Homo sapiens: one gene and its partners. The protein of the gene in region 3 interacts with the protein of the main gene of each other region in a pairwise test. Each region holds a gene or a part of one and is shown on either strand. Other genes may lie near its edges. The genes, in order: SH3YL1, SMYD3 and HELZ.

Region 1 (7,890 bases), on a different chromosome or scaffold from region 3:
CCACCAATCAAAATGTGAATCTGTTTTTGATATAACTGTGATTCTGTCTCCAGCTTGAAAATTCAAATCCCCAGGCTGCTGTCCTTCAAATGAATACAGCGCTGTCACTTCTATGGGTTGATTCAAATTGCCTGAAACAAGAAAAAAGTATTCACGTTTATGTTCTTTAAGGGAGAAATTGGGGGTATCTGCTGGTAAGATAAAAATTAACCACTTAGGGCTTGGCATGCTGATGTCTTGGAGGCTGGCAGAAACCACAACAGTCTGTGTAATTTTCATCACATTATTAAACTTATTTTTCTCTGCACATTCTATACCTAAGGATTTAGCACATGCTTCTGGTTACAATCGTCTAAATTTTGAATAATCTATGAGATAATACAACTTACATTTTTTCTATTTTAATATAGTCATTGCTGTGGTCTGAATGTCTGTGTCCCCCTGAGATTCAAGTGTTGAAATCCTCAACCCCAAGGTGATGGTGTTAGAAGTGGGGTCTCTGGGGGCTGATTAGGTCATTACGTTTCCCCCTCATGAATGGGATCAGTGTCTTACAGACAGAGCCTGAGGGGAGCTTCTTGCACCTTCCTCCTTGTGAGGACACAGCCAGATGGCACCATCTCTGAGGCAGAAACCGAGACCTTGCCAGACACTGAGTCTCCTGGAACCTTGATCTTGGAATCCAGCCTCCAGAAGCGTGAGAAATAAAATTCCATTGTCTATGAGCTGCCCAGACTATGGTGTTTTGTTACAGCAGCTGGAAGGGGCCAAGATAGTGTGACAGTTTCATGGATGGCAGATGCTGGAGAAAGGCAGATATGTGAGCTTATATCAAACCCTAGGAGATTCAACTTTAAAACCTGGCTCTTTACTCACTGGGCTTGAAGATTGCAGCCCAGTTATATTTTGCTGTTTCCTCAGCAGACATTTCTTCTCCCTGGGCTTTGTGGCTGTTTACATTTCTGTGCTTAATTGATCCATCCTCTCAATATCAGAGATAAGTTGGAATTAGCACAGGTAGGAGCATTTCTACATGTTTCACAAGTACTTCAATGCAATGTGTATATCCATGTATTGCAGAAGGAAGAAAATACTTTGAGAACTGAGCAGTTAACATGAATAAAGGACATTAAATATTATAAACCACATAACATCATAAAAATATAATTAAACAGTTTTTGAGCACTCAGCTACATGGAGTCTGATGCTTCTATGCTTCATATAATTCTGTGCATAAATTAGGCAACTAGATGTACAGACATACAGAAAACATCAATAACCAGACTCTAGAGCCAGGTCCTATTTGAACCCATAATACAATAATAATAATAATAATAATAATAAAGTGAATTTGGTCCACCCATAAGAAATAAAAATAGTCAACACTTTAAACTACTCTGACTAAAACACTGAATTTGTAGCTCTCACAAGATGGTGCTACCATTCTTTCTTTAAAGTATGTGCCATTTAGTTGAGTTCTAAAGAAATAATCCTAATAATAATTACACTAGAGATAATACTGGTATAACTACTTTTTTCTATAATAAAAAGAATTTCTGTATATTTTATTTTGTCCTATATTTACTTTTAGTTAACAATTTTAAGGAATAAGGATAAAAGAATGTCACCAAAATAAAATTTTGACATAGTCTAGAAACAACAGAAGTTAAGTTAAACGTTCTAAGTACACGATTAAATTCTACACGTTAATGAGCAGTCGCTGCCATGCACTGTGAAAGGAGCTGTGCTCTGCCCTGGGTGGGGTACCGGGCAGGCGCTCACGCCGTGCTTCCCTGTCATCAGATCAGGATGCAAGCTAATGCTAAAGAAAAATCCATCCTGGAAATCTCTTATTCATGATTATATTTAGGATATCCACATATAAAGCTGAATCTTAATTAACCAGAACAAATCAGTGAAGAACCTCCAGGAACTCTGTTCTCCTCCCTCTTGTCTCCCAGACACGTTAGATAATAGGAAGAAGTGAATTAAAAGAGTGCTTGTGAACATCAGGGAATGTTCTGGGAGCCACAGCCATCTTAGCTACCATGCATTTATACACTTGCAGTCTCATTTATAAAATCAAAAATGCATAATAAGGACGACAACAATGATAACAGCAATCGATGTGCATCTGGGAAGAGCAGCCACCGCGAACTGCTCAGGCACACACATGTGCTCCTCTTACACCGCCCACTGCAATGAGCCAGCTACTCCTATCCCACATCACAGAATTTGAAACTGAGCTTCAGAGATAACAAGTAATTTGTCCAAGGTCAGGAATGAAGCTTGTCTCCAGGTCATCCAAGACCCTCAACAACCTCATAAATATGAAATTGTGCTCAACAGACCAAACTGACATTTATCGGAGCATTTTACTTTTATGAGGCAAATGTTCAAGGGGGATTAATGTGGTGACCTGCCTCACTGGGTTTCCAGACTGTACAAATAACAGCATCTGATGCTATGGTTCTGGGTAATCCCTGATAACTGAATTGGTTCTAAGCAGTTTCAGGAATATATTTTATGAGGAATAATTAGAGAAATAAATATATTATGAACTAAGAAAGAGAAAGAAGGCGAGATCACACACCTGGTTTGGTCCCTGCCCTCACAATCAGGTGTTGGTCTAATTTTCTCTGAATTGCAGATTCCAAATGAAATGAGGATAAAGCAGAGTGAGAGAGGAGGGTAGAGGAGCAACGTGGGTGGTTTTCAGGTGCAGCTGAAGGGAAGGCCACCACTGAAGGTCTGAGGGGGCCGGGATCTCACATTTCTCCTTTACTGAGGCTAAGATGTGTGTTGACTGTTCCTTGTGCCCAATTCCTCACCCAATTGACCACAAATGCCTCTGCCTCCTGGGGAGGAGTACAAGAGAGTCAGGAGTTGAGCTGTTGTTGGAGAAACTCCATCCACATGAAAATCACAAGAGTGAGGCCAGCAGATCCAGGAGCCTATCTGCTTTCTCAGATAACAATCCACAAGCCAGTTAGTGCTGTGCCCTGTTAGTTTTTTTCTTTGAAAAACTCCAAATGACTTAAAGTTCCTCTTTAATGTAAATATTAGAGATAATTTTCACAAGGAGAAGTTTAATGCCCACAAAGAATTCACCAATAAAAGGTGAGTCAAGTAATGATTCCTTCCATGAAGAAAAACCTTCCTGGTTACCGGGAAGCAAACCCCACTGAGTTACTAAAAAGCTAGGCATTCACAGATGCCTTTCCTTCTGCACAGCATATGCCTTTCAGCCTTATACTCATGTACTTAAAAAATCGGAAGGATCTTTGAGGGAATTGGCCATTTCCTTTATAATATTCAAGTTTAGTTGAAGTAGGGGTTATTTTTCCCAAACAGGAAGCAGAATTAGATCACAGTCAGCATTGGTGACTGGCAGCTGCCCTGAGGCCCATGATTAGAAAGGCTGGTCTGTGGATGTCCCTGTTTCACTTCCAGTCCACTTTCTCATGGAGCCTGCATGAGGCAGACCCTGTGCAGCCAGCACCCCTGGCCTGACTGTTTCAGGAAAAAAATCACAGCCTTGGGAAGGTCACAACTAGGAGAACACAGCCTTTGCTAAGCACCCTATGAGGCACAAGATAGCCCCTACAACAAAGTGTTATCCAGCCTAAATTGTGTGTAGTGCCCAGGTTGAGAAACCCCATCCCAGACAACTATGGGATGGGTAAGAGGACGGGGAAGAATGCTGACGCTGGAGGGTCCAAGCTTTTGATTATGAAACCATTCCTTCCAGAGTCCCTAGAGGGAAGATCAGAAAATTGGACTGTGCATTTGCAAGCCTTGTCTCTCTCAGAGGCCCAAGAACTACACAGCTGGACCTTCCAAAGGGCAAAGCCAAAAGATGGTGGGAGGAAAGTACAGGTGATGTAGCTGATCATCACACCCAGCAGCCCCTCCGTGGGGCTGAGACAGATTCAGGAGCTCGCACGTGGAGGACTCAGTGTCCTGCTTCATCAGGTTTTCAATTTAAGGCTCGGGCCCTGGGGCCATGTAACTGTGACTTTTCTCTGCAGCGATGGTAAGCAAACATGAGGAAATCCTTGGTAAGAGGTTAATGCCTTCACAGCTGCGTTTAAAAAAATTCCGTAACGTAAAGTGAGTTTTATTTAAAAAGTGGACTGTAAATCTTCCCTTTTAATTTTTTCTTCAAGAACCTCTTTGGAGAATGGGCTAAAGGAATATTAACTCAGTTGTAACTGAGTTACCATTTACCTTGTCCTGTCCTCAAATACAAACACAGAAGCAACGGAGAAACCAACCATGGCAAGTGATGTTCCCTTTGGGTCCCACAGCTGGTAAGTGAAAGTACGGGGGTTCGAACTGGAATCTCTGTCTCCACAGCCCACTTAGAGTTTAATTTCTTATCAGGAAACGTTTTTCCTTGGTGCTGTTTATAGGAAGTTTCTAATAGAGAAAGGAACTCTAGTTCCCAATGTCACATTACCAAGGCATTCTTTGGGGGATCTGTGGCCTCAGCTCTTTTTCAGCCAGCTTCCCTCAGCTCTGTCTCTCTGTAGGGATCCCCTCCCTTCCCAAGCAAGTGCAGCCAGTCAGCTGACCTTGTCAAGTTTAGGAGCACTTTAACAACCAGATACCTAAGTCTAAGTCTAATCTTGAGTCTTTAAAAGTAAGAGGCTGTGTAAGATAAAAATCTAGGTGTTTACGCTGTCTTGGTGTCAACATTTATACCTTAACCACTTTTGCTTCTACAGGATGTGTATCCAAAGGCCAAACTTTTCATGTCTCTTTAAATCAGCCTGTAATGTGGGTGTGAACTTGATGTCTCTTTAACATGGCCTGTAACATGGGTGTGAACCACAAAGGGTGAAACACATTTTTAAAACCTCTCAGAGCTTTCTCTGCATACCTAAGACCATGGCACAGCATCTTCTGTAGGTGAGCCCCCGACCATCGCACCTGCTCTCCATACAGGACTCTAGGAGCAGATGCTCAACCCCCTCGGAGGAGAAACATCTGGGAAAAACACTGGAGTGGGCTCCCAGAAGGGGAGGCCAGGGTGAAAAGAAAGGTCACCAACCCTAAATCCATCAGGAACATGCTGACCTCTCTTCAGGGGATGCTGCTTAAGAGACCTTTTCAACATATTTTTATCTGCATGATATAAATTTTTAAAATATGCTTGAGTACCTAATTTTTGGTATTTTATTTACATGAAATGTTTAATTCTCCGACAGTTTTATATCCAGCAGCATATAGCTTTGTGACTCCAATGACGAAAGTATTCAATGTGAAAAAATAAACAGGCTATTTTATGATTGTTTAACTTTGCCCTCAATTTGTGTACCACTCACATTTGCAAATAATTGCTCAATTCTCTTCAGGGAAACCTCTGAAGAATATTTAAGTAAGACAGATTGAAGGACCATTTTTACTATGGTAAATCTTAACAAGTTTTATAAAGTAGTTTCCAGTAATAACAAAACATTTGAATGTGAAAAATAAAATTCTTAGAAATATAAAATTTATGGTGCTAAAACACAGAGAAAATGGAATAAGGATGAAATTGTAATTCAGAATTAGCAAACTTTCTCATTTTATCTCCATTGTAAATTCAAAAGCTTCCAGACAGCAAATGTGGAGGAGATCACATGCTCCTCAGATGATGCCATGGCTCCCGGGGCTCAGCAGCCCTGTCCCCAGCACACACTCCCTACACAGATAACACTGACGGTTAGCTCCTATCCGGGGCTTAGCAGCGCTGTCCCCAGCACACACTCCCTACACAGACAACACTGACTGTCAGCTTCCTATCACCCTCATTACCTTAAAGGCAAGTAAGATAACAAAAGCATAGCATTTTCTAAATGAAGTACTTCTCAAAAGAATGTGAATATTCTATAAATTAAAGGGCTGAACACTTCCCAGAGATTTTCATAACCTGTCAGATTAATTAGGAAGTTTGTGATCACAAAATGAATATGAATCATTTATAACATATAGATTTACTGATTTACCAACTCTCTCATGATAGCTGGAAAGTCCAGGATAGAGCTTATATTCATTTCTGTTACCTGCCAAAAAAGAGGAGAGTGGTGATTTTGAAAACTGATTAGTATATATCATACAAAATACACAAAATTGCCAGATCCTGCCCTTGCTGAGCAAATATTTTAAATCACTAAGTTGATAGGATCATCATCATTTGATTGCGCTTTAAATCACAAGGTATACCTGAATAAAGCCAGAAGATACATGAAGTATAAGGTAGATGATAAATACCTGACATCTGTATGACACAGAAGTACACACACTATTCTCATTATAAATTCAGATGACAATTCTATTAGGTTCTTCTTCAATTGCATTGAAGGCAAAGAAACAGAAATCACTGATTCATGGAAGGATTTACACTGCATAAGAGCCATTCACTAACTGCATCCACATTTCACACTGGATTCCCGTTCTGACGCTCTGGGGTGATGTAGTGTAGAAAGAGGCAGAACGGTCTGGGGGTTTGCTTTTCTTCTTCAACTGCAGAAAAACTGATTCTAACAGTACAGAAGACGAAGAGCACACCTTGCACATCATGTTCAGCTTTAAAAAGAACTTATCCAGGAGCTGGAGATCTGGAGATGGTGTCTCTTAAGTGGCCTGTGCCCACACCCCCTTTTGCAGTCTCTGCGTACTCCTAAAGACAGGCACACACCAGTGTGAAGGCCACTGGCCTAAGACATTTATGAAAGTCAGAATTTAGAAATAAAGTTTGGTGGGATGGGAAAAGGATACAAATATCCTCTGAGAATCTATTTTTAAAAACTGACTAGAAATAGTTTTGAGCAAGTGACGAGATATAAGACAAACAAAATATATGCAAATTAAGATTTCCTTCACTGTGAAAATTGGTACTTAAGTAGAAATAGAAAAGTGCATTCCATTCACCTTAGCAGATCAAAATCTCAAAGTACTTGGGAACAAATTTAACACAAAAGGCACAGAAATTACAAAGTCTTATTGAAAGACATAAAATCTCAACAAATGGAAAGCATGAAATGGTAAAATTATTATATCTCAAAGTAATAAATGTATACATGTAATGTTACCATAATTAGCATTGAAAAATTATAGAATGGATACAAGTACATCATACTGTTTCAACTAGAATTGTATATTGGGGAGGAGGGGAAAATTAGGAAAATGAGCTCAAATTATGTGAAGACTAAGTATCCAGTAAATGCAAAGATAAAAAAATCACAAGAAAATCTAGGAGACTATGAACATACTCTTGTGTAGGAGGTGGGAAGACCTTAATCATGACCAAAGTATCCAAATCTATAAAAACTAAATGATAGACTTATTTTTAGATAAAATTTAAAACTTTCATGGAGTAAAATTATGAAAAACAAGATCAAAAGAAAAATGGTAAGTGTAGAAATATGCTGCAATCCAAATGACCAACAAAACCTATAATATAGATAACATTTCCATAAATTGAGAAAGCAACAAATATCCCAATAGGAAAAATAGACCAATGAAATGAAGAGACTTTTCAGATAAGATTAAATCCAAAACACCAGCAATTTATATGAAGAGATGTTTACATTCACTAATAGGAATAAATACAATCCAATTAACAAGGAGATGTGACAAGCCTTGACTGGCAAAATCTTCTAGATGCTTCCGCACTAATAGTGGTGGGGAAGGTATATGCTGAAGAATGTCATAATGGATGTAATAGTTGAAAATGCACTTGGTGGGGAATGTAGATGGTGGAGAATGTATATAGTGAGGAATGCATACAGTGGGGAAGATATATGGTTGAGAATGAAAATGGACAGTGGGGAATGTGTATAGTGGGAATGTCTGGTGGGAAGCCTATATAATGAAGACTTGGGAATGTTATTGGGGAGTGTA
Region 2 (8,540 bases), on a different chromosome or scaffold from region 3:
AACGGCAGAAGGACAATATAAGTGATTTCAGGCCGGGGACAGCGGCTCACGCCTGTAATCCCAGCACTTAAGGAGGCTGAGGCGGGTAGATCACCTGAGGTCAGGAGTTTGAGACCAGCCTGACTAACATGGTGAAACCCCATCTCTACTAAAAATACAAAAATTAGCCAGGCGTGGTCTGTAATCCAAGCTATTAAGGAGGCTGAGGCAGGAGAATCGCTTGCACCTGGGAGGCGGAGGTTGTGGTGAGCCAAGATCACACCATTGCACTCCAGCCTGGGCAACAAGAGCAAAACTCCATCTTAAAAAAAAAAAAAAAAAAAAAAAAGTGATTTCAGGTTATAATTTCATTGCCATTTACTCTTTCTACAACTTACATACTTCATTTTCTTTTCCAGGCACAACACGGAAAAACCAGAAGCCATTCCTTAATGAGAGGAAAAAGGTAAGATAAGCCATGAAGCAGGTTCACCTTTCTCCATTAACAAAAACAAGTATACAGAACTAAAGCTACTAATCAAAACAGCTCTAGAGCAAAGGAAATCATGTAAAACTTGGTAACCATTGTTTCTGGAGCCTAAGGAAGTAGAGATGTGCATCCCTTAAGGACATCATGAGGTGATTTCATTGTTGTAGGAACATCATGGTGTATCCTCACACAAACCCAGACTGTACATACAGCCTGCTACACACCTAGGCTAGCAGGTATTGTCTGTACTGCCTACTGCTCTGAGGCTATAAACCTGCACCGCGTGTTACTGTACTGAATACTGTAGGTAACTGTAAAACAATGGTAAGTATTTGTGTATCTAAATGTACCTAAACACAGAAAAAGTACAGTTAAAAAATGATATAATCATACAGGGCCACTGTCATGTATCTGGTCTTTCGCTGACCAAAATGTCGTTATGCAGTGCATGACTGTAATTATCATCAATATCTGTTTTTTTAATTCTATTTTGATTTTTCCTTTCCCATGTAACTGTTAATTGCTACAAACTAACATTTTCATTCCATACTTAATTCAGATGGAAGGCAGCAGAAGGACAGGGGCAGTTAGGAGGAAAATTCTGCCAGACATTCATACTAAAACTAAGGGCTTACTATGTGTTAGACACTGGGGCTACAAAAACTGAAAGATGCACTATTCTTAAAGACTTCACAATGGACAGTGAATAAAGAGAAACAAATTTTACTTACAAGATGACAAGTAATACAGAAACTTATCCCTCAAGGACAGGCATTCAACAGTGGCAGAAAACTGCATCAAACAATGCGCTAACATTTCCCTAACACTATTTTCAGGTTGCAGTGATTCCCAACCAGGCTCTTTGGAACACTATAACCACTAAAATGGGAGTGTTCAAACAGAGCAACTACTACCACAACACAAGTGAACTGTGTATCCTGGCAATCCAAAGTAAGTGCAAATATTTTGTGTCTGTGTAAAATACTAGTAAGTATTTGTCAGTCATTATGAAGAATCTGTTTAGCTTGTTTTGTTTAGATGCTTAGCATTTACTTATATCCCTTTTTCTATGTTTATGTTTGCTGATTTCCCCACTGGATAACTATCGGTGGGAAGTAGAGTGAGCCTGCCTTCTATCTTAAAAGCCAAAAAGGCTAAATACCGTCTCAACCTCCCTCGCGCTAGGGGTGCAGGCAGTGACCTAAGTTTAGCCAATCCAAGACACTCACTGAGGACTTTGAATAAAAGCCAGTATCACAAAGAAGAATGGTTGAGAGAATCACTCTCCAGCAACAGTGAGTTTCCCAAGGAGCAGCAGCAGCAGCAGCACCAGGGTCCAGTGTCTATGGTGTTCGTGGTACCTACTGCAGAATCCAATATTATCAGGCGACAGAAGTGATATACACCCCAGATCCCAGCCCCAGCTACTTTTGCAGTGCAATCCTAACTTGGTTCAGCCGATGCCCAGTCAAGTCTTGGCAGACTTTAAAGCAACACTGAGAACTCCCCCAAAACTCTTTCATTAAATTCCTTTTTTGCTTAAATCCCCAGTTACTGCAAACAGGAAAAATGAATGAGACTAATGAAATAGTATGGTAAATCAACAAGCATCCCACCCACAAAGGGTTTGTGTAGCTTATTTTGGAAATGCACAATTCCGTGTGTCACAAGACTCAACTTCAGCTCTAATGATTCAATTGCCAATTTGTCACCATTTATTCATTCCAAAACTTTTCTGTTCCAAGAACTATCTTGAAAGGAACGAATTGTTTTCAACCACACAGTTTACAAAAACTTCAAGATGCTGCTCTCTCCCGAACAGATGTTTTCGCTGTTATCATTACTTCAGAAAGCAACAGACAAAATTATTATTTGGTAGCTCTAAAATGCAAAGTCATATTCCTGAATTATGAATCAAATGAGAACAAAGTAAGAACAATGGTCAAATTACAGATACGAGTTTTGCACTTACCGTCCCACCTCCACCCACCTAAATCTCAGACTGGCAGGTCTGAAAAGCGGCCATGCACAAAATCATCGCACTCATCTCAAAATAGAACTCTTCTTCCTCGCACACAGAAGCTCAATAATATTTGTTGACTGAATGCAGTTCCTATTATTCATGTATGTTACACATTTCCATAAATTGCTTTCACATAGCACTTTACACCGGCACAGCGCGTCCAGGCTTCCAAAACACCTTCACGTGAATCCCTGCATCTAGAATGGTGGTTAAGAGTTAGACATGCCTGCACAGCCATTAAATGGCACAGCACACGGGGGACCCGTGTCTGATGCTCCCACAGCACATTAATTGCCCCTCTATTTCAGCCCTTCTGGTACACTGTAATTCTCTCTCTCACTTGATCAGCTCTTTGAGGAGGTCCCGTTCCTCTTCGTATCCCCAGGCCACACACAACCCAGACCACAGAGGTGCACCGTAGACATCAAGATTCTTCCACCTGCTGCAAGCCTGATGCTTTACCGGCGGGGCCTCTGCAGGGGAGCCTGATTTATACTCATCCCAGCTCCCACCCAGCCCCACGCCCGCCACGTGTGATTTCCACAGCCGCACCAAGGAAGACTGTCCAGCACACAGACTTTTCGTCTCCCAGCAAAATTATCCCCGGCACAACGCTTCCCCCTCAAGTCTGCCCAATGGCTTTCCCATTTCCACCGCAGCCCAGGTTGGGGGGCAGTGGCTGAGCCTGGGCCCCCTCCCAGCCCCGCTGCGGCAACCTAGGGGGGTGTCCGGGCGGGGCCTGTCAGCAGCGACCCGCCCCCGGGCACACGCGCGTCAGGGGCAGCACCGCCAAGCTGCCTGTGCAGCCCCATCCAGCAGGAGTCCCGCGGCTGCCGGCCGCCCGACGCCCCCCCCTCCCCAGCACCCCACACAGCTCGCGACTCAGGTAGGCGAGGGCGCTCCTTACGCACCCGAGAAGGCAGCGGTCGCAGACGACGCCACGACTCCCCTTGCACACCGTGTACGCCAAGGGATCCGAGCGGAAGAGTAGCTCTCCGGGGCGCAGCGGGGTCACGGCGCGCAGCCCGTTTCCCCTCTTGGCGGTTGCGAACTTTTCCACCTTCAGCGGCTCCATCCTCCCGCAGCTCCGGCACCTCAGACGGCTACCCGCGTCCAGCAGCGGGCGTCTCACGGGCTGCCGGGACCCGCGCGCCTGCGCCCTGCGCGCACACGTACGCCCGAGGGGCGGGGCGGGCGCGGTGGGGCAAGAGCATGCGCAGATGGAGTCTGGAGGGACGGCTGGAGTGGAGTGTGTGGGACCTGAAGGTGGTCGTAAGGCTCCGCGTGCGGCTCGTGCCCATGGCGACTGCGCAGAAGACAGGCGGGGTTTTTTTTCTCCCTCTAACATTGTATTACGATCATTTTAACGCATACGGAACAGTTGAAAACAGTGCAGTGAACACCTATATACCTCCGCCTAAATCAGACAACCTAGCACTTTGCCATTTCTGCTCGTCACTCTCTCCCCACCTGTAGCTATGTATACACGTATTGTCGTTAAACTATTTCAAAGTTGCAGGCATCATGACATCACAACTAGTACTTTGCACTGTAACTTTTTTTTGTTTTAGGACGGAGTCTTGCTCTGTCGCCCAGGCTGGAGTGCAGTGGCGAGATCTCGGCTCACTGCAACCTCTGACCTCCGGGTTCAAGCGATTCTCCTGCCTCAGCCTCCATAGTAGCTGGGACTACAGGCATGTGCAATCCTCCCGCCTGGGCCTCCTGACTAGATGGGACTATAGGCTCACGCCACCATGCCTGGCTAATGCTTTTTACTTTCCTCCAGAGACAGTCTACCTATGTCGCCCAGGCTAGTCGCAAACTCCTGGCCTCAAGTGAACCTGAACCTCCTGCCTCGACCTCTCGAATTGCTGGAATTACAGGTGTGAGCCACCACACCCAGCTTAATTTTCTTTTTTGTTTTTGGGGTTTGTTTTGTTTTGTTTTGTTTTTTGAGACGGAGTCTCATTCTCGCCCAGGCTGGAATGCAGTGGTACGATATTGGCTCACTGCAACCTCTGCCTCCCGGGTTCAAGCGATTCTCCTGCCTCAGCCTCTTGAGTAGCTGGGACTACAGGCGCCTGCCACCACGCCCGGCTAATTTTTGTATTTTTAGTAGAGACGAGGTTTCACCGTGTTAGCCAGGATGGTCTCGATCTAACCTTGTGATCCGCCCGCCTCGGCCTCTCAAAGTGCTGGGATTACAGGCGTGAGCCACCGCGCCCAGCCCACCCGGCCTAAATTTCTTAGTTTGGACAAACGTGCCATGGTAATGCAAAATGTCATTATTAAGGGCAGCTGGATGGAAGGTGTAGGAGTACACTATAGTGCCTTTCAATTTTTCTGTGTATCTAAAGTCATTTCAAAAGTAAACATTTATTTTAAAACATGAAGGTGGTTATGCTTCCATGAGTGTAAAGTACAAAAGGCAGGCTCGTGGTGCTGTCAGAAGTCAGAACACTGGTTTCAGGGCTGGGGGTGTTGGGAGGGGCTGGGCATGGTTGGCTTTGTGATCTGGGGGCTGGTGTGTTCCATCTGTGAATATCTTTTAAGCTGTGCACTTACCAGGGATGTAAGTCATATCTTAATAAATTTTCATAAGTTTGACAAAAAATAAAATGAGGATGGGAAGCTTGTTTGGGTTGTGGGGCCTCGGGTGCTTATCCAGCCATGAGCTGTGTCCCAGATGCTTCTAGAAGCCTGGAGGGAGCTGAGAACATTCCAAGTCGAGGTGGCAGAGCCAAGGCCCTGAGGTGGGAGCGCAATGCTGCACATCCCCAGCTGTGAATGGGGTGTCCTGGTCAGAAGCAGTGCTGTGTGCACTGCAGGGCCGGCAAATCCACGTCCACATTGTGGCTTGGTGCAGTGAAAGCCAATCTCAGCCCCCTCCACAGTGTGATTAGCCTGCCAGCAGGTGGCCAGCTGGTCCTCCTGGGAAATGGTGCCAACCCAGAGACTGGGTGCAAGTGTCTCATCCACGGAGGGGCGCTCAGCAGTGGTGTCAGCCTGGTGAGCCTCGGTAAGGGCACGTGCAGGATGCTGAGCCTCTTCCGTTCCCATGCCCGTCTCAAGGCCACTTGCTCCGTGGGCCCATCCAGCAAGCATGGTGGCCAGGAAAGAAGCCGGCTCCATTCACAGGGCGTGCTGTTTTGCTCACCTCAGGACCAAGAGCATCCTCCATAGTGATTCTCTTTGGTGGGAGCACTAGAAACATGAACCACAGATACCTTCAGCGTCTGAGCCGCTGAGGCGAGGGCTGCAGGACACCCTGCTGTCGGGAAACCCTGCACTGGCGGCTGGAAGGCATGTGGTGGTGGCGCCTGCTGTGGCTGCAGCAGTTGCTGCGAGGCTTCGGGATCTCGCCGGCCCCTGCGAGGTGAATTGTGACAGTGCAGAGCTCCGTGGTACCAGGGCCCCCTGCATGGCCATGCTGACTGCAGCTGGGAGCCCACCACACCTCTGGTTCCCCGCTCTTCCCAGGGCTGGGGTCTAGGCCAGGCCCCTCTTGGCCTGCGAATTGTGCCCTGGGAGGGGGACACTGTTCCACAGGTTGGGACCAAGGACCCAGGGCATGCTACTGGCTGGCTGGGCTGCAGGGATGCCATGCTCACCTTTCTCTCTCATGGCCTTGACGGGACCGGCTTCCTCATTGAACAGCATTTTCCAAGGTGTCTGGGATTGCTGGTGGGGTGCCACCCTGGCTCCTTCTAGGCATGCCCGTCATTGGCCACCAAGGGGGCCAGATGCAGGTGCCCATGCTGCTGTGGGGGCATCTCCCAACTTCCCTCTTAGTCCTGATGGGCCTAGGCAGGGCCTGATATGGGGGTCCCCATGGGCTTCCGGGGCTAAGCCTGCCCCATGGTCCCAGGGCTGTCCAGGACACATTCAGAAGGGACATGAGCTCAGCAGCTCTGTTTGAAATTATTATGGAACCAAGGGCCCCCCACATCCAAGTCCACTGGGAGTCGGGACATGGAGTTCCGCTGCAGGTACCTCCAGGAACCCCGAGGTCCTCCTTGAGCCAAGGCCAGGCTGGGCACACCATAAGTCCTGGGTCCCCCAGAGAATGGCCTGCTGCCCTGGGCTCCCCAGAAGCCCCCTCACGCCCCTGGGCCTTGGCCACATGGAAGCCCCACCAGGACAGGTGTGAGAGGACAAGGAACCCATGGTGGGGAAGCAGACCAAATGGGCCGCTGGAACCAGGCTGGTGGGCCAGGGGGCACCTGCCCATCCCCCTTGCAGAGGGCCTTCCTGCCACGTGAAGCCAGCACAGCCCTGGCTGCTGAGGACCCTTGCCTGGGTTTGGCTGAAAGAAAAACAGACGTGATCAGGCAGCACCTCCAGTGGGCCCAAAGAGTCCTTTCTGGGCCGGGCCCCACCTGCCTGGGTCTCCGGAGTCCTCAGGGTCTCTCGGTGGCCCCTGGGGTCTGACACTGAGGACACACCTGCAGGCTGCTGATCCCAGAGGGAGGGGTGTGTGTCACCTGGGGTAGGGAAGCTGTCGGGGCACAGCAGGTGGCTCCTGGGACTGCCCCCCAGGATTCAGGCTGGCTGGGGGCTTCCTGCCCCATGCCCTCATCCCAGGGCTGTTGGGCCTGGTATATGATCCCCAGTCAGAACTCAGGTGGGAGGGGCCTTGGCTGTCACCCAGCCCCCTTGCTACCTCACTTGGGGACCTGTCTCTACCATGAGTAAGAGGGCCCAGATACGGGGCCCCCTCTGCCCTCCTGGGCTGCCCGGTCCATGCCAGGACTGACCATTCCCACACCTGGCTGAACTCTTGGCTCTGGCTCTGGGCCAGGGGTCCCACCTGTGCCCTTGCCCTGAAAGCTCTGGGGGTCAGGGACACCGACTCCCTTGTCTCCCTGGCTCAAGGCTCGTTGTCCTGGCACCCTTGGAGGGATGTTCAGGAGTGAGGGGCCTCTGCTGCTCTCTGAGGCTGTCAGTGCTTGCAGGGAGGGGTGGGGGGGGTCCCACAAATGGGTCTGGCTCCTCCAGTGCCGTCAAGGGCCCTGTTGGGGGGGGGCGGGACACCGTGGAAAGTGGGAGGGGGCTTGTTGGAGAGGTCTTGCCCACATCCCCCTCCTGCGTGCACAGCATGTGCAGTGCACATGCACTGAGCACCTGCCCTGAGGACCGGGGGCCTATTGTCTTTCTTAGAGTCCAGGAGGAAAAGGAGGAAGAAAAGGCACAAGAGGAAGGCCCAGGTAGTAGGCTTGGGGGTCCCGGGCGCTCCCCCACTATTGACTGCCCCAGAGGGTGACTCAGGAGGGGGCCTGGTATGGAAGCCCATCTGGGGGTGGCAGGTCCCCATTCTTCCTTGTTAGCTTCCTCGTAGAGGCCCAAGGGTGCCCGAGAGCTGCGTCTTCATCCAGGGCCTAGGTATGGGAGAACCAGCCCCCAAAACTGCCCATGGGCCAGACCTGGATGTCTTCATGAGGCCCTCTAGGGATAGGGTGGGCATCAGGCCAGGAGAGTTCCCTGGGAGGGTCAGAGCCCATACCTCATTGCCACCTCAACCGTCTCCCACTGGGAGGTGCCAGATCCTTTTGTGGCCACCCCAGGGGTCCAGATGTGCATAGGAGGCTGTGGCTGGGGGTGGCCTGGGCAGGGAAGTGCTCACCACACTCCAGACTTTCATCTGGAACATGTCGGGGGTGGGCTTGGTGTCACTGTGCCCTGCCCAGCCCACCCAGCCAGACCTCCCCCTGGGCCAGAGCAGAGGATCATGGGGACAGTGTGAGGAAGCTGCCCTCAGGCCAGTCCGAGTCTGACCCCAGTGCTCCCCAGTGCCATTGGGCACACGTGGACTTACTCCATTAAACCTTAAAGGCAGTGCATGCCATCGGCATCAACACCTGTTCCCCTTCTACCAAATACACATCCCACAGGTGCAGGTTGAGCCTGAGAGAGATCTATGGGGACAGCAGACACTGGAGGACCTGGCCCTTCAAGGCTGGGGGCTGGTGGCTCGAGCTGGGCCCACTGGGACTTCAGTCCCCAGAGTCAGTGACCCTCCCCATGAGGGTCATCTGACCCTTCCAGGAG
Region 3 (8,595 bases):
TGCAACCTCTGCCTCCCGGGTTCAAGCGATTCTCCTGCCTCAGCCTCCCAAGTAGCTGGGATTACAAGCACCCGCCACCACGCCCGGCTAATTTTTGTATTTTTAGTAGAGACGGGGTTTCACCATGTTGGCCAGGATGGTCTCGATCTCTTGACCTTGTGATCCGCTCGCCTCAGCCTCCCTAAGTGTTGGGATTACAGGCGTGAGCCACCCTGCCTGGCCTTTTGTGGTCTTTTTAATCAGTATTTGCCTTCTTTTGAATTTATTATTGTCTTCCCTCTATGTTAGCTTGGAAATTATTCATTCTTTTACAGGTCTAGTGATTAACTTAGATGTTACAACATGCATCTTTGCCTTTGTCAATGTCTAGTCTTAACTGGTACTTTAGTCGTATTGCTGGATAATGTAAATACTTTGGACCTTTTTTTTGTTTGTTTTTTGCTTTTTTGAGACGGAGTCTCAGTCTGTCACCTAGGCTGGAGTGCAGTGACGGGATCTCTGCTCACTGCAAGCTCCGCCTCCCAGGTTAACGCCATTCTCCTGCCTTAGCCTCCCAAGTAGCTGCGAGTATAGGCGCCCGCCACCATACCCAGCTGATATTTTGTATTTTTAGTAGAGATGGGGTTTCACTGTGTTAGCCAGGATGGTCTTGATCTCCTGACCTTGTGATCCGTCCTCCTCAGCCTCCCAAAGTGCTGGGATTACAGGCATGAGCCACCGCGCCCGGCCTACTTTGGACCATTTTAACTCCACTAACTGCAACCACCGCCCTTCTCAGATTTATACTCACTGTTATCAAATATTTCAATTCTAGATGTACTTTACATTCCTCAAGGCATTATAATTTTTTTTTTTTTGAGACAGTCTCACTCTGTCACCCAGACTGGAGTGCAGTGGCGCTATCTCAGCTCACTGCAACCTCCGCCCCTCAGGTTCAAGCGATTCTTGATTCTCCTGCCTCAGCCTCCCGAGTAGCTGGGATCAGATGACAGGCATGAGCCACCATGCACAGCTAAATTTTGTATTTTTTGTAGAGATAGGGTTTGCCATGTTGGCCAGGATGGTCCCGAACTCCTGGTCTCAAGTGATCGAACTCCTGGCCTCGGCCTCTCAAAGTGCTGAGATTACAGGCGTGAGCCACCGTGGGCAGTCCATTATAATTATTTCTCTTTTTTTTTTTGAGATGAAGTCTCACTCTTGTCACCCAGGCTAGAGTGCAGTGGCACGATCTCAACTCACTGCAACCTCTGCCTCCCAGGTTCTAGCGTTTCTCCTGCCCTGGCCTCTGGAGTAGCTGGGATTACAGGCGCCCACCACCACGCCCAGCTAATTTTTGTACTAAGGCAAATGACCAGGGAGTGTAGTTGTAGAAGAGAAACCCAAGGACTGAGACTTGGGACTCTCCAAGCAGAAAATGAAGGCACTGCGGCCGGGCACAGTGGCTCACACCTGTAATCCCAGCACTTTGAGAAGCCGAGGCGGGTGGGTCACTTCAGGCTAGGAGTTCGAGACCAGCCTAGTTAACATGGTGAAACCCTGTCTCTACTAAAAATACAAAAATTACCTGGGCGTGGTGGTGTGTGCCTGTGGTGCCAGCATTCGGGAGGCTGAGGCAGGAGAATCGCTTGAACCCAGGAGGTGGAGGTTGCAGTGAGCCAAGATCGCGCCACTGCACTCCGGCCTGGGTGACAGAGAAAGACACTGTTTCAAAAAAAAAAAAAAAAAAGAAAAGAAAAGAAGCCACGGCCAGTGGGAGCAGAGGAGAAAGAAAAAATGTGGGAAGGAAGAGGGATGTGATGTCGGGGGGATCAGTTAGTTAGGGCTGTGTGTGTTCATGAGATCAGAATCAGAATTGAGCTAAATCAGTGGTGGCCAAGGGACCTGTTTTCCCTCAACACTGTTCCTTTCTGCCTGCCTCTAGCTGTGTGTGGTCAGTGGTCTGAAGAGATGCGAGGCAGGGCCCTCAGCATCTCACTTCACACTTTAGCACTCCTTTTCATCAACACGCCCATCCCTGAGAGAAGTTTGGTCATGTACTCGACTAATACTTGGTGAGCGTCTATGTATGTGCCAGGCCCTGGTCTAGTCACTGAGGCAAATAAGCCAGACAGAGCCTGTGCCCAGAGGGAGCATATGATCAAATGGGGGCGGGGCAGATAAGAAACAACTAACAACAGGCAAACAAGAGAACTTTTTTTTTGAGATGGAATTCTCACTCTGTCACCCAGGCTGGAGGGCAGTGGCACGATCTTGGCTCACTGCAACCTTGGCCCCCCAGGTTCAAGCAATTCTCCTGCCTCAGCCTCCCGAGTAGCTGGGATTACAGGCGCGCTGTAATTTTTGTACCTTTAGTAGAGACAGGGTTTCACCATCTTGGCCAGGCTGGTCTTGAACTCCTGACCTTGTGATCCACCCACCTTGGCCTCCCAAAGTGCTGGGATTACAGGCATGAGCCACAGCGTCCGACCTAAACAAGAGAACTTCTAACACAGGTCAAGTGTTCAGAGTGACTTGGTCTGGGTAGGGGGATCACAAAAGTCCTCTTTGAGGGGACCTAAATATGATGAAAAGATGATGGGTCGGGCGTGGTGGCTCACGCCTGTAATCCCAGCACTTTGGGAGGCCAAGGCGCATGGATCACGAGGTCAGTAGTTCAAGATCACCCTGGCCAAGATGGTGAAACCCTGTCTCTACTAAAAATACAAAAATGAGCCGGGCGCGGTGGCGGACGCCTGTAATCCCAGCTACTCAGGAGGTTGAGGCAGAGAACAGCTTGAACCTAGAAGGCGGAGGTTGCAGTGAATTGAGATCGCGCTACTGCACTCTAGCCTGGTCGACAGAACAAGACTCTGTCAAAGAAAAGATAATCAGAAGATCTGGGGGAATAGGGTTCTCACTGGAAGGAAGCTTGGGGCGCTGCAGGGAAAGAGAGAAGGCCAGCCTGGACCACTGCTGGTGAGGGAAGGTGGGACCACCTCACACAGGAGCTTGTAGGCCAGGGTTGGGAATCTGGGTTTTATTCCAAGGTTTCAGCAGAGAAGTCTCGATCTGATTTACATTCATAAAATATCACAGGGTTGGTCAGGTGGAGGATGCATTGTAGGTATCCAGGAGGGGCAGGGAGAAGAGTCGGCAGGCCGTCCCAGCTCAGGCAACAGGCGGTGTATTTGACAAGGTTGGGCTTGGATGCACACACTGGAGGCAGTGAATGGGTTGGGCAGTCACACAAACTGAACACTTATTTGGGTCAATGCCTATACAAGGCAAAGAAAGGCTGCTTATCAAAGAAACGTGTTTGGGAGACACAGTCCTTGCCCTCAACTTATTTCCTGTTTACTTATATTAGGTGGGTGCAAAAGTCACTGCGGCTTTTGTCATTACTTTTGCATAAACTCAGACCACATACCTAAAGGTGCCATGCAAACAAAACCACCATTAAGCCAGTGCATACCAGTGGCTAAATAAGTGCAAAAGAGGAATTGGAAAAGAAGCACCTGGGGTACCCTGGAAAGAGACATTGGAGCCTTCTTCAGACGGGCCAAGCATTCCCTTTTCCAGCAGGAGGGGCGCTGCCTCCCCCCAGCCTAGCCCATGCCCTTGGTGGCTACCTTGCTGGGCCGTCTAAGAACCTGGCTCCAGGCTCCAGTTTCTCCACTTATTCCGAGGTGAGAAGCAGGTGACTCAGGGGAGGTTGCTCCCCAGCACGCTGCGTTCTTGGCTGGGAATGACTCACTACCTCGTTCCCTCCTTCACGAGTGACCCGGGGCCAATCCCTTAATGTGTCTACACCTTCTCATCAGACCGGGACAATTGCCTGGTGGAGTTTTTGGCTCCCCAGGGGCAGGGCTCCTGTCTGCCACCGTTCACGTTCCTAGTGAGGCTGTTGATAGGGTCTGGAGGAGCGTAAAATCCTCGGGTAGATCCAAGGCCCCAGGCCCTCCCCGTGCACCGAAAGAGGGTTTTAATGCCAGTGCTTCTGCGGTCTTCTAAAGGTAGAGCCGTTCAACAGCATTTTGTACCGAATACAATTCGCAAGCATTCCTGTCTTGGAGAATTTTCTTTTGGGTATCTCCTTGTTGTAAAAACTTGCTTGGAAAAAAAAAAAAGCAACTGGAGCAGGCCTCCAAAGACAGCAAAGCAGGGACCAGAGGCTCTGCGGAGAGCGCGGGAGGAGGCTGACCAAGGGGCCTCCGTTGCTGGGGGGACCTGGGCGGCTGGACGCCGGGGTCAGTACGCTGCTCGCCCCGCGCAGCCGAAAGCGGGCGTGGTGTCGCGGGGAGAGGATGCCCGGCAGCAGTGTGGCCGGCGGGCTGGGGGTACTCGCCCGGGTCAGAGACCTCAGCCCGCGCCAAGGCGCCCCACACTTTCCAGCGCAGCGGGTCGCAGCCCGGAGACGCCGGGCGTCCCCACCTCCAGCCTCCCGAGCTGCAGCGGCGCCCGCGGTTCTCCCCCGACCCGCCAGGTGGACCCGGACTGGCGCACCCTGCTTTCCGCCCGGGACCCTCCCCCGAGCCCTGGCTGCCTCCGCGCCCCGCCCCGCCCGGAGCCCGCAGCCGGCGCCCCGGATTACCTGCCCCGGAGTCACAGTCCGCAGCCCGGACGCTCCCAGGGTGGCTCCGCGGAGCCTGGAGCCACATTCCTAGGGGAGGGGTCCCCACCTAGAGGGTCGCGGATCACGTTACCCGCCCGGAGGAGGAGACCGCGGGACACAGAGTAAACAAGGGGTAAAAAGTTGCATTTGGCTCAATTTTTTTTTTTAAATCGTGCTTCGACGCTGGTGGACTCGGGGACACGGCGTCCTCCCAGTTCCCGGAGCCCAACGGCCCCGGGGCGGTTTCCCAGGGCAGAGGCACCTCTCCGGGCGGCGGGTGCGGAGCTGGTCTGCGCGGCCTCTGAAGGCGACCCCGGCCGCTCGCGGGCTTCCTGGAAGCGCGGCCGCAGGAGCAGAAACGCTCACATCCACGCGCACAAATAAATCCGCGAGCAGCTCCGCGCCGCGCCGCGGGCGGCAAGGAAACCTCGGGTTGATTCAATGCAGACGCGGGGCGTCTGCCCGGGCAGGAACGCGGCGAGGCGAGAGGACCGGGCGTGGGGGCAGGGAGGCCGGGGCAGGAGAAAGGGAGAAAACCCCAAAGCCACGTTTTAAAAATGCGGGTGAATTTTCAATGCCGTCAGCCCGGGGGAGGGGAAGGGGCCAGCTGCGGGCGCCGGGGTCGGCAGTCCACCCGGGGCAACTTTCCGGGCGGGAGGCGCGGCCGGAGGGGGCGGCGCCGGCGGCGGGAGGCGGGAGTCGGGGGCCGGGGGGAGTCACTTTAAAGGCTCTTTCTTACCCATAATGCTTTGTGGGGACGTTGACAAGTGGATCCAAGATGGCGTAGAAAGTAATGACAGGTAAGTCCTGACTTCCCCCTTCTCTGCTCCTGGGGCCGCTCCGCGAGCTCCCGGAGCTCTCCGGGGAGGGGACCCGACTCCCCTCCGGTGTCCCGGACCCCGGGCGCGGCGGCCCCGGGGCAGGCTGGGGGCCTGGGCGGCCCGCGGCTGGGCCTGGGAAGCGCGGCTCTTCGAGGCGAGGCCCGGACGCTGGGGCTGTTTACAGCTTCTTCCCCTACTTAGTCCCCTTCCCCTCCGCTGGGGCCCGCAGCGTCCTGGGCCCTGGCAGGAGAGGGGGCCTTGCACGCCTGGCCCGGGAGCCTGCGGGAGGTTTCTCCGGCCCAGAGCACTCTGGGAGGGGGACTCGAGCCTCCCGGCACGTTCCCCTCCTCCGGGTCGCGGCTGGGGGTGGGGAGCGTGCGGGCCTCCCACGCCCCGCTCGATGCCCCCCCTCAGGCCTCGGACTTCCACCGGGTGGGGTGGGGGCTGGAGCGGGGGCGTGGGGAAAAGTGGGTCAGGCGTGCGCCCCCTCCCTCCCCCGCGGAGGGCTCTCGGCCCGAGATTCACTTTCTTCCCCCCTTTCCCCGCCCCCTCCTCGGAAATGCTCTTTGGCCCACAAGCACATCAACAAAAATAAAGATAGGCTCTCTTTTCCTGGAGATTCCTTGAGAGTACTCCAGTACCCTTTTCAAGGGCTCACAGACTGCAGTCTTACCTAGGGAACTTCGATTCCTCTCCCCTAAATTATTGGAGCCTTCTGCACCCTCGCCTTTGCTGAGAAATCTTCAGACAGGGCTGGAAGCCAGGGTCCTCTGATTGTTCTTGGATCGGGATCCTCAGGTTTTGTTTGCAGTTCAAAAATTGTCATTCCTTCTCCCTCACAACTTAACACTTCTCAGGCAAATCATTAATATAATAAAAAGTGTAACTTCAGAGACAGTGGATTCCTGGAGCGGGGGAAGGAGGGAGGAGTTGTCTGTCTTGCCTAGTTTGTTCTTAATTTTGCTCTCTCTTAAACTCATATTAATGAAATTTCCTCTCCTTCATTTCTTTATGTTTTTGAAAGTAAGGTCAGTCTGTGTTGAAAAAGATGATTTTATTATGTTTTTGAGTTTTAAGAGCATTGTATAATCTATTCTTTTACCTTACTGAAAGGAAATGTTTTAAGGTCAAAAACCAGACTCATTTGCAAAGCTGCACACTGTACCATTTTTGTAACTTTTTCCATTTTAAATGTAGATGCCCTTTCACTTCAGGCTGATAAAATGTTTGCTACTGATAATGTCTGTTACTGGTGTTGTATGGAAACATCTTTTCTATTTGCCTCAGGATTTGGATGAAGTAATGGATCACTAATGAACTACAGTGCTGGTGAGATGTGTAAGGTGAGACTGCAGTTAAAAATGATTTCCTTTTTTTCCTTCTTTATTTTAATCAACTGGTAAGAGTAAGGCTGAAACTGAGTAATTTGATGGGGCCATCTTTGTTTTCCAAATGTATCACTCAGTCAGTGGGTCTATGGGCAGGGCTAGATTTAGAAAGGAAAAATATGTTGAATGTACCAATCTTTTCAGTTGCTCCAACATACTCAAACATAGTGGTACTTAACTAAGAGCCAAATGTTACTTGCAGCTATTCTTGATCAGTATCTTCACCAGGGATAATTATAGTTTGCCTATTCAAATTTTCTTGCGTAACTTTACTTGGATGTCTTAATTTTATTTGTGTTTTGGTGTCTATCACCTACTGTACGTTTAGTCCCGGTGATTATGTATATGGATTTTGTGTGTACCTGGTTTGTGGGACTCGTAAAGTATACCCTTTCCGTTAGAAAGAATTAGGCAGGTCAATCACTCCTGCTTTTATTTTCTGAAAAATGGAGTAGTACTTTTCTCTTTAATAATTATTTTGAAATAAAGATGATAGTGTTGAGATCTGTTTAGCTTATTAGGAAATAGACTAGTTTGTCATTATGTCCTGATCACACACGGTGTGTGAATTTATTCAAAGTGCTTTATTTAATCTAATTTGTAATGCTTTGGATTTAAAGGATATTATTGATACAGTGTTAGTGAATAGTTTTCTGTGCTATAGAGAGGAAGAGAAGTTTGCTACTTTTACATTTTTCACGAGTTTTCTCAACTTAAAATGTTTTACTAAGTTTTTTTTTAGAAAAATAATAAGTAATTGTGGTCGATTGGTTACTGTAGTTTTTTTTTTGTTGTTTCTCCACACATCTGGGCCTCTGGATTTTGAAATCCTCTCACAAATTTTTCGTGTCTATCACAACATCTGTTTAAGAAGAATAAGCTATCCTTTTTTTTTTTTCTAGATTGAGGCATGTAATTGACATTTTGCCTTAAAAAAATAAAAACTTAGGAAAGGAAGGTGGACATAAACCAAGATTCTTTTGTAAGTGCACATACTGCATTTTCTTGTGTTTGAAACTCAGCAGTGCTTATGTTTATTTCATATAATTTTTATTTTTGGCAGAGCAAATATGGATTTTTAAATTTATTTTTATTTTGCAGATGGAGGCATATTCCTGCCTTAGACCTCCCAATTTGAACTTTATATATGTGTGTATATATACATATATGTGTGTATATATACATATATGTGTGTATATATACATATATGTGTGTATATATACATATATGTGTGTATAGATATGTGTGTATATATGTATATATGTGTATATATGTGTGTATCTATGTATATAGATAGATAGATTTTTTTTCTTTTTTTTTTTTTTTGAGACAGAGTTTCACTCTTGTTGCCCAGGCTGGAGTGCAATGACGCGATCTCAGCTCACTGCAACCTCTACCTTCCAGGTTCAAGCAATTCTCCTGCCTCAGCTTCCCGAGTAGGGATTACAGGCTTACGCCACCACACCCGGCTAATTTTGTATTTTTAGTAGAGAGAGGGTTTCACCATGTTGGTCAGGCTGGTCTCGAGCTCCTGACCTCAGGTGATCTGCCCGCCTTGGCCTCCCAAAGTGCTGGGATTACAAGCGTGAGCCACCATGCCTGGCCTTATCTTTTTTCTTGAAGCCTACAGATAATTTTGTGGAAAGGAGCCAGTGGTCTGCTTTTTGACTGTGGAGATGTTTGTTTGTAGTCTAAAATGGAATACTTAGAAGTAGGTAATCTTGTGTGGCTAGTGTTGTTTGACCTGAATTGTGTCAAGACATTTTCCACAGTTCTCACACATGTAGACTCTGTG

The links.
Region 1: the proteins of HELZ (region 3) and SH3YL1 interact in a two-hybrid assay, tested with the Homo sapiens proteins (one study listed by BioGRID).
Region 2: the proteins of HELZ (region 3) and SMYD3 interact in a two-hybrid assay, tested with the Homo sapiens proteins (one study listed by BioGRID).

Annotation. Positions count from the first base shown.
Region 1 is NC_000002.12:218,871-226,760, forward strand, and holds part of SH3YL1 (SH3 domain-containing YSC84-like protein 1), read right to left. Parts: intron 6,051-7,890; coding exon 5,994-6,050; intron 132-5,993; coding exon 1-131.
Region 2 is NC_000001.11:246,503,651-246,512,190, forward strand, and holds the start of SMYD3 (histone-lysine N-methyltransferase SMYD3), read right to left. Parts: upstream 3,630-8,540; 5' UTR 3,568-3,629; coding exon 3,404-3,567; intron 1-3,403. UniProt on the Homo sapiens protein: Histone methyltransferase. Specifically methylates 'Lys-4' of histone H3, inducing di- and tri-methylation, but not monomethylation. Also methylates 'Lys-5' of histone H4.
Region 3 is NC_000017.11:67,241,944-67,250,538, reverse strand, and holds the start of HELZ (probable helicase with zinc finger domain), read left to right. Parts: upstream 1-5,342; 5' UTR 5,343-5,391; exon of another isoform or gene 5,392-5,763; intron 5,764-6,699; 5' UTR 6,700-6,755; intron 6,756-8,595. UniProt on the Homo sapiens protein: May act as a helicase that plays a role in RNA metabolism in multiple tissues and organs within the developing embryo.